Linked DNA regions of Homo sapiens: all the other regions are reported to be linked to region 1. The links are microRNA targets in miRTarBase. Many come from high-throughput screens and were not tested one by one. Region 1 holds a microRNA gene; each other region holds the end of a gene's coding sequence.
What was found. Region 1 holds the annotated microRNA hsa-miR-4635 (UCUUGAAGUCAGAACCCGCAA, at 1,967-1,987, shown strand). A microRNA usually pairs through its seed, bases 2 to 8, with sites in the 3' UTR of a target mRNA and lowers its output. Matches are read on the target gene's strand: a 7mer-m8 pairs with bases 2 to 8, a 7mer-A1 pairs with bases 2 to 7 and ends in A, and an 8mer does both.

Region 1 (3,347 bases):
CATCTCCTCGCCGTCCCCTCGCTGTCCCCTCGCCGTCTCCTCGCCGTCGCTTCGCCGTCCCCTCGCCGTTCCCTCACTGTCCCCTCGCCGTCTCCTCGCTGTCCCCTCACCGTCCCCTTGCTGTCCCTTCACCGTCTCCTCGCCGTCCCCTCGCTGTCCCTTCACCGTCTCCTCGCTGTCCCCTCACCGTCCCCTCACTGTCCCTTCACCGTCTCCTCGCTATCCCTTCACTGTCTCCTCGCCGTCCCCTCTGTCTCCTCGCTGTCCCCTCAACGTCCCCAGGCCTGTGCGCTGTCAGGTCCCGATGGGCCTTGAGGCCACCGACCCGAGGGTGTGTGCTCTGAGGCTGTCGAAGGCCCTGGCCCTGGGAGCGGCCATCTGAAAGTGTCCAGGCACTCCCTCCCCTTCTCCCAGAGCCCCGCAGGGGCTGGGGGATTCCCTGGACACATGACCAGCAGCTGAACTCTGCTGTGAGTCTCTGGCTGGTCCTTGGAGGAGCTGACGGAGTGAGGGTGGGGGCTTTGTGGGGACCCCCCTCGCCTCGCCGTGCCCGCCCCTGCACTGGCTGTGAGTCCCCGGGGAGGCCCCTTCCGCACCCTGGCCTCAGATGACCTGCGGACGGCCGCCTCTCTCCGCAGACACCGTCCGCGACACCACCGCCGCGCACCAGGCTCTGCTGGTGGCCAAGAACGTCGACTCGTTTCCGCAAAACCAGGAGCGCTTCGGCGGGGGCCACATCGACGTGTGGTGGATCGTGCACGACGGCGGCATGCTCATGCTGCTGCCCTTCCTGCTGCGCCAGCACAAGGTGGGGCGTGCGACGGGGACACGCCAGCCGGAGCACGGCCACCCCACGTGCTGCGGGCCGGGACGGGCTCCTCTGAGGCCCCACAGCCATGCCCTCCCTGTCTGCAGGTGTGGAGGAAGTGCCGGATGCGTATCTTCACCGTGGCCCAGGTGGACGACAACAGCATCCAGATGAAGAAGGACCTGCAGATGTTCTTGTACCACTTGCGCATCAGCGCCGAGGTGGAGGTGGTGGAGATGGTGAGTCCCGAGGGCTTGAGGGGAGGAGGCCGGGGGGAGGTGGGGAGGAGGTGGGGGGCGGCCCGGGAGGGCTGTGGGCCTCGTGAGGTGGGGGTGGAGGGGGAAGTGGAGATCGGGAGGGCTGTGGCCTCGTGAGGTGGGGGTGGAGGGGGAAGTGGAGATCGGGAGGGCTGTGGCCTCGTGAGGTGGGGGTGGAGGGGGAGATCAGGAGGTGGAGGTGGAGGTGGGGAGGAGAAGGTGGTGGCGATTGTGGCGGGGGCTGCCAGGCCTTGCGGGGTGGTCAAGGAGGCTTGGTTTTGGAATCGCCAGGACATCACAGAAAGCACAGAGCCCCGTGTGTTGCTTGTGGACACCTCGTGTAACACGGGTGTGGGTGTTGCCCTAGAGCCGGCATCAGCATCTCCGTGTCCTCCATGGTCCCGTGTCCTCCTCGGCCCGGGACCCCGTCCAGGACCTCACACCTCAGTGGTGTTGCCATGGTGGGTGCACCTCTGAGCACCTCCCGTTTTGGGTGCTCTCCCCAGATGGGCTCACCTTCCCACGGCTGGAAACCACACATCAGCAGTCGGGACCCGGGGAGAGGGGCACTGGTCAGTGAGGCCAGGCTGCAGCTGTCACGTGGGACAGACAGGCCCTCGGTCAGCTATAGGCAGGGCCTGGACAGAGACTCGTCCCGTCCTTCACGCCTGGAGAGGACGGGGTTGATGGGCGGAGGCCTGGCATTGGAGCGCTTGCCCCCGGCCCCCAAGCATGGAGCTCTGGATCCTGGGGATCTGGTGGGCCCCTTGTGCTGGATGGAACCATGCCTGCTCGCTACCAGCCCACCCGGATCCACGGCTGTGCCTTCCCCTCCGGTCCTGCTGGCGGTCCCGGGACTTTGTGGGTTCTGACCCCACTTGGATCACGCCGACAACACTGGTCTTGAAGTCAGAACCCGCAAAGTCCTGGTTTCTTCCGGCTCCCGTGACCCCAGCGCATGGTTTTGCAGGTCCTCAGGGGCCTGGACTCCTGGAGGTGGGTGCTGGGAAGACATAAAGCTGGATAGAGACTGTCACGCTGTCCCCCAGGAAGCCACCTGTGCCCCTGCAGCAGCCTGGGAGGTGCGGTCTCTCCAGCCCCGCAGCCCCCCAGTCCCCCAGTCCCTCAGTCCCCCAGCCCCCCAGCCCCCCAGCCCTGGGTATGGCAGAGGCCCCGAGCACCTGCTCCTGGTTTGTGTCGGGCTGTGAGTGAGGCCAGGCACGGCTTCGTGCCTCACCGACAACCTTCTGTGTTTCTGTGTCAGTTCCCGTGGAACTCAGTTGTCCTGTGGGGTTGTTCTTCCTCTTGCCCTGCAGGACCTTTCCTAGGCCGAGGGCTGCAGGCCTGCGTGACGCTGGATGGTTTTCTGCCCAGTTTTGTACACTGGGCTTAGTTTCCATGTGGCTGTGTCTTCGGGGACGATGGCTGGAGTTTGTCTTGTTTGGACGAGGCTTTGCGGGTTCAAGGTTGTAGGGGTTATTATTGGTGCTAATAGTCGTATGAATAACGTTATTTCCAAGTCATAAAACCGCTTAGTAAAATAGTAACAAAATGCTGCCTGGGAGAACCAGCCCTGCCAGGGGGCCAGGTGGGGCGGCCACTGGGGCCCAGAGGAAACAGGCAAAGTGAGCCCATGGCCCCAGCCGCACCCCCAGCCCCTCCGTGGTGCCAGAAGCAGCTCCCCAGCTCCTGAGCAGGGGTTGTTAGCTCTGAAGTCCGGGAACCTGGAGCTCCCAGCACCCCCCATGCTCCCAGCCATGTCTCTGGCAGGGCTGGGGCTGCCCACCCCTCCGTAGCCCTGGCCGCAGGGACAAGTGCCACCTGGCTGGAGAGGGGCGTCTGGGTCGCTGCCATTCAGTCTGGCATGCTGTTTATTTTTTTAAAAAAAGTTTTGAGACAGAGTCTCGCTCTGTCCCCAAGGCTGGAACCTCCACCTCCTGGGTTCAGGCAATTCTCCTGCCTCAGCCTCCTGAGTAGCTGGGACTACAGGTACACGTCACCATACCTGGCTAATTTTTTTTTTTTTCTTTGTATTTTTAGTAGCAATGGGGTTTCACCATGATGGCCAGGCTGGTCTCGAACTTCTGACCTCAGGTGATCCACCCGCCTCGGCCTCCCAAAGTGTTGGGATGACAGGTGTGAGCCACCGCACCTGATCTGGTGTGCTGTTTTAAATACTGGTGCTTAACAGGCACAGCTGCTCCCAACTCCCATGAGCCGGGTGCGGCGGGTGAGACACAGGGATCCCGCACGGCGGGTGCGGTGGGTGAGACGCAGGGGTC
Region 2 (3,347 bases), not on the chromosome of region 1:
GTGATAGGAACTGGGTTTCTCGCTCTTGAAACACACACACACACGTATGTGGGAAGAAACTTCCTTCTGCCTTTGAACAGGTGTTATCTGGAGCTGTTGCAGCCACCTCGTTATCATGAGAAAGCAGCTGACACAGCAGGAAGAGCAGGAAGATGGAAACCTAGAACCTTGACAACTTTCTTGAATGTATAGCCCTGGAATGCCTTACTTTCGAAGTTCCTGTTATACAACATAATTCATTTCCCTACCGCTTAAGTTTCTGTTAAGTGTGGCTTGAAGCTGAGAGGACCATGACTGATGCAGGGTTATCTAGTGAAGTAGGGGACAGAATGCCACAACCTTAAACTTTGATCCTAAAAAAGACAAAAGACAGCTGTAAGTAATTGCAGAAAGCCCCTTTAATGTCTGTGGAACAGAAGAACCATGTTGGATGGGGAAAGCAGGGGCAGGACACACGTGTCGCGTATCTATGGGGTGTTATCAGGGTTATATCTGTGACAGGATCAACTAACTTACTGGCTCTCATTTCACCTGATAACATAAGACCCTCCCCGCTGACTACACACAGTTTAGGTTATCACTCCTTATGACTCCTGCTCCCTGCCCTGCACCCTAGATTCTCTGGGACTCACTGCAGTTTTCCTGACTCTGATGGAATGTGCTGGAGTCTATTACGAGCCCTGCTTTTCAGAAGGTGCTCAACAGGCCCTGAAGATGTGCATCTGGCCGATGGTGGGTCAAAACCAGAGTTCTGCAGGCTGAGATTTTTCCTTTTATTATTATTAAACTTGGCTGTGTTTTCCTTCGGTGGCTCTGGCATCCTATGCAGTAGTGCTGGACATTTGCAGGCAGTTAAGGCCCAGTACAGCAGGAAGAATGATTTCTGTGACTGCTGGTCTGTGCAAGCCCTCCAGCTGCGGGAGCAACCTCCCTTGAGGAGAAGTTGTGGGGGTGGGCCTGGTGGGGAGGGCGATAGGCTGGGACAGAAGGAAGGATGGAATACTGGACCTGGTGGCCAGGGGTCAATGGGATGTCCTTCTCACCAGAAGCAACAGAACGCCGACTCCAGCATGCTCCCATTTCAACTAAAGTAGTGGGAGACCCACCCAATGTGCATCAAAGGCCTGGGTCCTTCTGGGCTGCACTTTGAGGAGGAGCAGCATAGTAAGGGATGGGGCGCCCATTCTGCTAGCAGAGTGATTCCTGGAGATGCAATCTGGGAGGGATGTATCCACGTGGCTGACCCCTCGTGTCCAGATGTCACATCTTAGTGTCATGAGCCTGGTATAAACATTGAATTTTTAGGATGCATTTTCACTGAGAGGCTACCACTCTGGGAGCCTCTCTTTTTCCTGCAAGGAGCGCCTCTCAAAGGAGTGATTCTGGTTCTCAGAGGCATTCTGAGCTTTGGGATCTAGTCTCAGGCTTTCCAGGGAAGGAAAAAGCTATGGCTGGATGACTTTTAGTTTTCTGCAGTGCCGGATGCCAACTAGAAAAGCTCATTTTTATCTGAAAGGAAAGAACCAGCTAGAATTGAGCATGCCCTCCTTTCCCATCCCTGTATCATGTCCTTGGTTCCACATCCCCCCTTGCCATGCTGTTGTGAAGTTGTTTTGTTTTCCTCTCTCTTTCCCATAAAAGGTCATGAGCTCTGTTTCTGTCTTTAAGATTCCCGTACTTGGTGGCACAAATGAGGCAGCCTCAACATTCTGTTGAAGGAGTGAAGGGTTTGGAAGTTCCAGGTGGTGCAGGAAACTAGACTGGCTCCCAGCAGGTAGATCTTTCCCAAACCTGAAATGGCCATACAATCCTGTATGTGAGACAGGCTGAATGCAGAGAATGAGCATTTCCAGGTGGTAGCTCTCATCTCATCTCACAAAAAAAACCAGACCACCACTGGGAGTCCTGTTCCCCGGCTTTTATGCTCACCCCTCCCAGTCACTTCAGATCAGTTAATTCTCCAGATTTACAAGCTAGAAAACTCCAGCTCTGGCACTCAGCACACAGGCCTCAACCGGGGCTGTGGATTTCAACCCAGAAGCCCAAACTTCTCAGCCGGCTTAAGGCCCCTTCCAACTGCCAGTCTGTACCACGACAGCAGTGCTGTGGGCACAATGCCAAGCACACCCATGCCAGGCAGTCCTCCTGGGCCCTGACTTGATGGGGTGCAGCCATGGGTCCTCTGGACACGTTTTGCTCAATTATACCTTCCTCTCCAGCTGCCTAACCTTGACCAAGATGGGGACCTGATTAAAAACCCCATCAGTTTCTAGCTCTTCCCATAATTTTGATTGACAACATTAAATGCTAATACAAAAACATCTTATCTCTGATAAAACAAAAGCTGACAGAAAGACGGATGCTGAAAACCAGCCATATGGTGGACACGATTCCTGGGCCTGGCCCTGTTCACAGTAGCACTCTCTGGCAGAAAAGAGATGACACTGAGAAGCTTGAGGACCTACATTTAATAAATCAAACTGTACTGGCATCATCAGAATATTCACAGTTTGCAACAGGATCAGTGCGTTTTCTCACTTGCAGACTCGGAGGTATTTCAGGAGAAGGCGACGTGAGCGCACCATTCCGATGCTTCATTCTTGACCCTCTCTGGGGCTTTCAATGTGTCATTGTGTCAGATCCCTCTCCCCTTCAGGTTTTCACGGTGCTCCTCATGCCTCCGCCCTCTGGGATCCCTTTGCCGTCTTCCGGTGTGGAAGCTTTGGCTGCTGGCCGGCTGGCCTCGAAGGAGTCCAGGTGAGATTTAGGGAGCTCCCCCTGGATGGCCAGGCCTGGCGGGGCTGGCCCCGTCTCACTCCTCTGACCTTCTATGGGACTCTCTCTTCTGACCTCTTCCAGTTCTGCAGCTGCCTGTTCCTTTGTCAGTTTAATTATTTCCCTCCCAAGGCTGTTTACTTCTTCCTCAGAAGGTAACTGGGGTAATGAAGGATGAAAGAGCTTGCATTGGTTCCCGCGGCTCTGATTTGCTGGGGAGTTGACAGCGGGCCTCCCAGCATCCTCAGGCGCTGTCAACGCCTCAGCAGCGGCACAACTTTCATCTTCTTCTTGCTTCTGAGCCTCCCCTGAAAACAGAACGAGGACAACATTAAACCTCTGGCAGCAAATCAGCCCTCACCGCCCCTCTTCTGCCAACCTCCTGCCCAGCCTACCAGCACAGGGCCTCTGAAAAAGGAGCAAGACTTTTTTGGCTCCCTGTGCAGGGCAATGGAGCCAAAGGGGAACACAGGACCCAGGTGAAACCAGCGAGCATGCATTCTAGTGATTCCTGCATTATTAACAGAGGGCAAGGGAGCACTTGGGCCATGTCATAATCCATCCTTTCCAGG
Region 3 (3,000 bases), not on the chromosome of region 1:
AGCGAGCCGAGATAGCGCCACTGCACTCCAGCCTGGGAGACAGAGTGAGACCTGTCTCCCCTCCAAAAAAAAAAAAAAGAACTCGGTGTTTGCTCTGCAGGTTTGCTGGCTACCTTCTCTTTTCAGTACACTGGAAATAGCAGCTTGTGTTGTTTACCTACTCTTTGATCCTTTTTTTTTTTTTTTTCCTCTTGGCCTCAGGCTCCTGTTCTGGATGTCAGATATGCATCTGCCTCCTGAGAAACTGGTGGCTTTGAACACTTGGTGTGGACTACTGTGTTATCCGGGATATCAGGTATTATGAGACATCACCTAGCCATCTGCATCACATCTCTCTGGACAAGCAGCTATTACCAAAAAAGGCATATACTTCCAGTCCTGTGCTCCATCTGCCTTAATTCTTTGCTCGTTCCTCCATGTTGGCGCCACTTCCCAGAGAGCTCCACTGCATCTCACACTCTGCCCACGTGCTGGGGAAGTCTCACGGCCTGCACATCTCTTGTGACTCTGGGAACCGCCTCTCCCGCCGGAGCCCCCGAGCCCCACCAATGGCAGCTCTTCCCAGTCAGCAGCTTCAGAGCAGGCAGTCTCCTTGGAAGGCCCGACTCTGTTCCTGCATGGCCTGCAGTTTCTACTTTGTGCATAGAGTCATTTTCAGAGTCACCGCGACCCTGTTGGCCTTCTAGAAAGTTTCTTTTGTTCTTTTCTGAGACAACCACCTAAGTGATAATACGCTTTTTTGGAAACTAATATATATTGCCAGACTGCATCATAACCTTTATCATGCCAAGCATCCTGATGCAACTCACATTTCCCTAAACATGGGGTACAGTTATGATTTATAAATTGAGTTGGCTTAAATCTCCCTCTTCTCCCTTCCCAAGTGTTACAAAGATCATTTACTGCAACTGTCGTTGGACACTGTAGCTTAAAGGGAACGTGGACCTCAATGCTTTCTGCCTTCAACTTTTCAGCATTGTGACCCCAGGGTGGTTGCCACCCCATCTTTTCCTGACCCCCCCCACCCCCCCACCTCCAAGAGGTTCGGCCCACATCACTGTACCTGGTGCTTGTAAATTTGGAATTGGTGCCTTCTCCTTTTGGCAACCATGGTTATCAATCCTTTTTCTGTTTTAGTGTCTTATTTCTTCTTTCAAGTTATTTGCTAGCCAAAGATGACATCACTGAGATTAGGAGACAGGGGAGAGCTTGCTGCAGATTCTGACAGTGCAGATTTTAAATGTCAGGATATTAGAATAGCTGGCGCTGGTTTATGAAAGCTGCGCGTTGTTCCGCGTTCTCTCGGTGTGCCTGGCCTTTTATGTGGCACTCTGTATGTCAGTTTGTGTCCTTCATGTGCTGATGTGATTACACAAACACCATGCACTCTCTTTTCATATCAGAGTACAGGACAGAGAAGTGATCAATGTATTGGTCTAGTGAGACTGAGATGAAAAGAAATAACCTACAGAGTGGTCTGTAATGCCTTTTGGTTGGACTGGGAACAAGTAAAAATTTCTAATAAACATTTTGAGACTTCCAGAATCACTTTTGTTATCTTATCAGACCATGGGCCTGCTGAGGGTTGAGCAGACAGCCTGCATTCTAACATACCCTGTTCCCACCCCACGGCCATTCAGACTGCACTCAATACGCTGAAGTCGCTTTTGTTGTTGTTGTTGTTGTTTGCATCATTTGGATTTTTTTCCTGCTTTCAATACCAAAAAAATGCAGATGCTTTAAGGCCTAAACAGAATTCTGAAGAATTTAAAATATGCAATTAAAGTTTGATATGTTTTGTCTCCCAAGCACCTTGTTTTTTGTTGTTGTTGTTGTTGTTGAAGTCAGCTGATTTTCTCTTTAGAAAGAGGGTCAGCTAGAAACCTAGGTTTTTTGGAATTGTAAATTTTTTTTTAGTATAGTCTGGAGAGAAAGGTCATTCAAAAGGAAAGTACAATGGGACTTGCTGCCCTTCATCATCTCGTTCCCGTGCCAGGTGTGTGTTGGTCACGTAAAAGCCTGGGAAGCATCAGAGGAGTCCCGGATTGCTGCTGCTACCTGGAGACAGGGTTAGCAAAATAACACTAGTGATGAGGGAGAGGCTTCTTTTCACCATAAGCCTGCTGTGTACACCGAGGGCGGCAGGAGAAGCATGGGAAGGAGTCAGCCTAAGTTTGCACATTGCATAAAGGGTACACTAAGGTATGAGCTGAAGCTTTAGGTTCTCCGTGCTTCCCTCAAGACCTCCTTCTTGCTAACAGAAGCAGTAGGCAATTGCTGCAGTGCGTTTCTCACCCTGCCAATAGGTCTGTCTGTATCTCTGTTAAGGAAAATAGCCTGGTCCCTCCTGGCAGTGCTTGGAAGCTTGATGCTAATTTTTATATAGCGTGGCAAACTGACCAGCAGTGCCAGGCCTTGATCTGTATTCTGCACTATCCCTTTACTTGGTTCCTGGCACTGAATGGTCTCCAGCCCTGAAGAATCACGTGTGATCACAGCAGCTGACCTGGGCTTTCTCCCCGAGAGGAAGGGGCATGTCATTTTTATTTGACAGAGGGAAAATGGGAGCTGTCCTTGACTGCCTTTGTTGTGCTTTCCCGCGTAAGATAGCACTGTGTTTTAAACTGTTGCATTACACTGTCTTTGCAATGATGTAAATGTAAGAAATCACTTAGCTTTAAAAGCGCAGTGGTTTGATCTTATTTATATGAAGACTTTTTAACATATCAAGAATTAGGTGCATTGGCAGGTAGGGTTTGGGGTGTGATAACTGCTTCAGATGGAATGTTCACTTAAGCTTTGTCTTCTTAAAAATTATCAATGTGAATGTCATAATTATATATATTTTTGTGGAAAATTTTCTCCTAAGTATAAGTTATTGTGCAAAATATAGTGTCATTGATGCAAATAATAGTTTAACTTTTAGTTTAGAACTCCTAAAAGATATAAATTGTATTGCATATGCATTAAAAGTTTGTTTTATTTAATTTTATGTAGATG

Region 2: miRTarBase lists CCDC149 as a target of hsa-miR-4635. Seed matches in the 3' UTR shown: 7mer-m8 at 273-279, 7mer-A1 at 179-185 and 7mer-A1 at 24-30.
Region 3: miRTarBase lists RCOR1 as a target of hsa-miR-4635. The part of its 3' UTR that is shown has no 7-base or 8-base seed match.

What each region holds. Positions count from the first base shown.
Region 1 is chr5:1,061,544-1,064,890 of GRCh38, reverse strand. MIR4635 (microRNA 4635) reads left to right here and starts at 1,917; the gene lies at 1,917-1,995. SLC12A7 (solute carrier family 12 member 7) reads left to right here. Exons shown (of 24, transcript NM_006598.3): 19 at 639-808; 20 at 916-1,047.
Region 2 is chr4:24,805,737-24,809,083 of GRCh38, forward strand. It overlaps CCDC149 (coiled-coil domain containing 149), which reads right to left. Exons shown (of 13, transcript NM_001395273.1): 13 at 1-3,083. The coding sequence ends at 2,653. Among named protein-coding and RNA genes, the nearest start is that of SOD3, 12 kb to the left of the region's middle. RefSeq lists an enhancer at 3,007-3,347.
Region 3 is chr14:102,726,267-102,729,266 of GRCh38, forward strand. RCOR1 (REST corepressor 1) reads left to right here. Exons shown (of 12, transcript NM_015156.4): 12 at 202-3,000. The coding sequence ends at 240. Among named protein-coding and RNA genes, the nearest start is that of TRAF3, 50 kb to the right of the region's middle.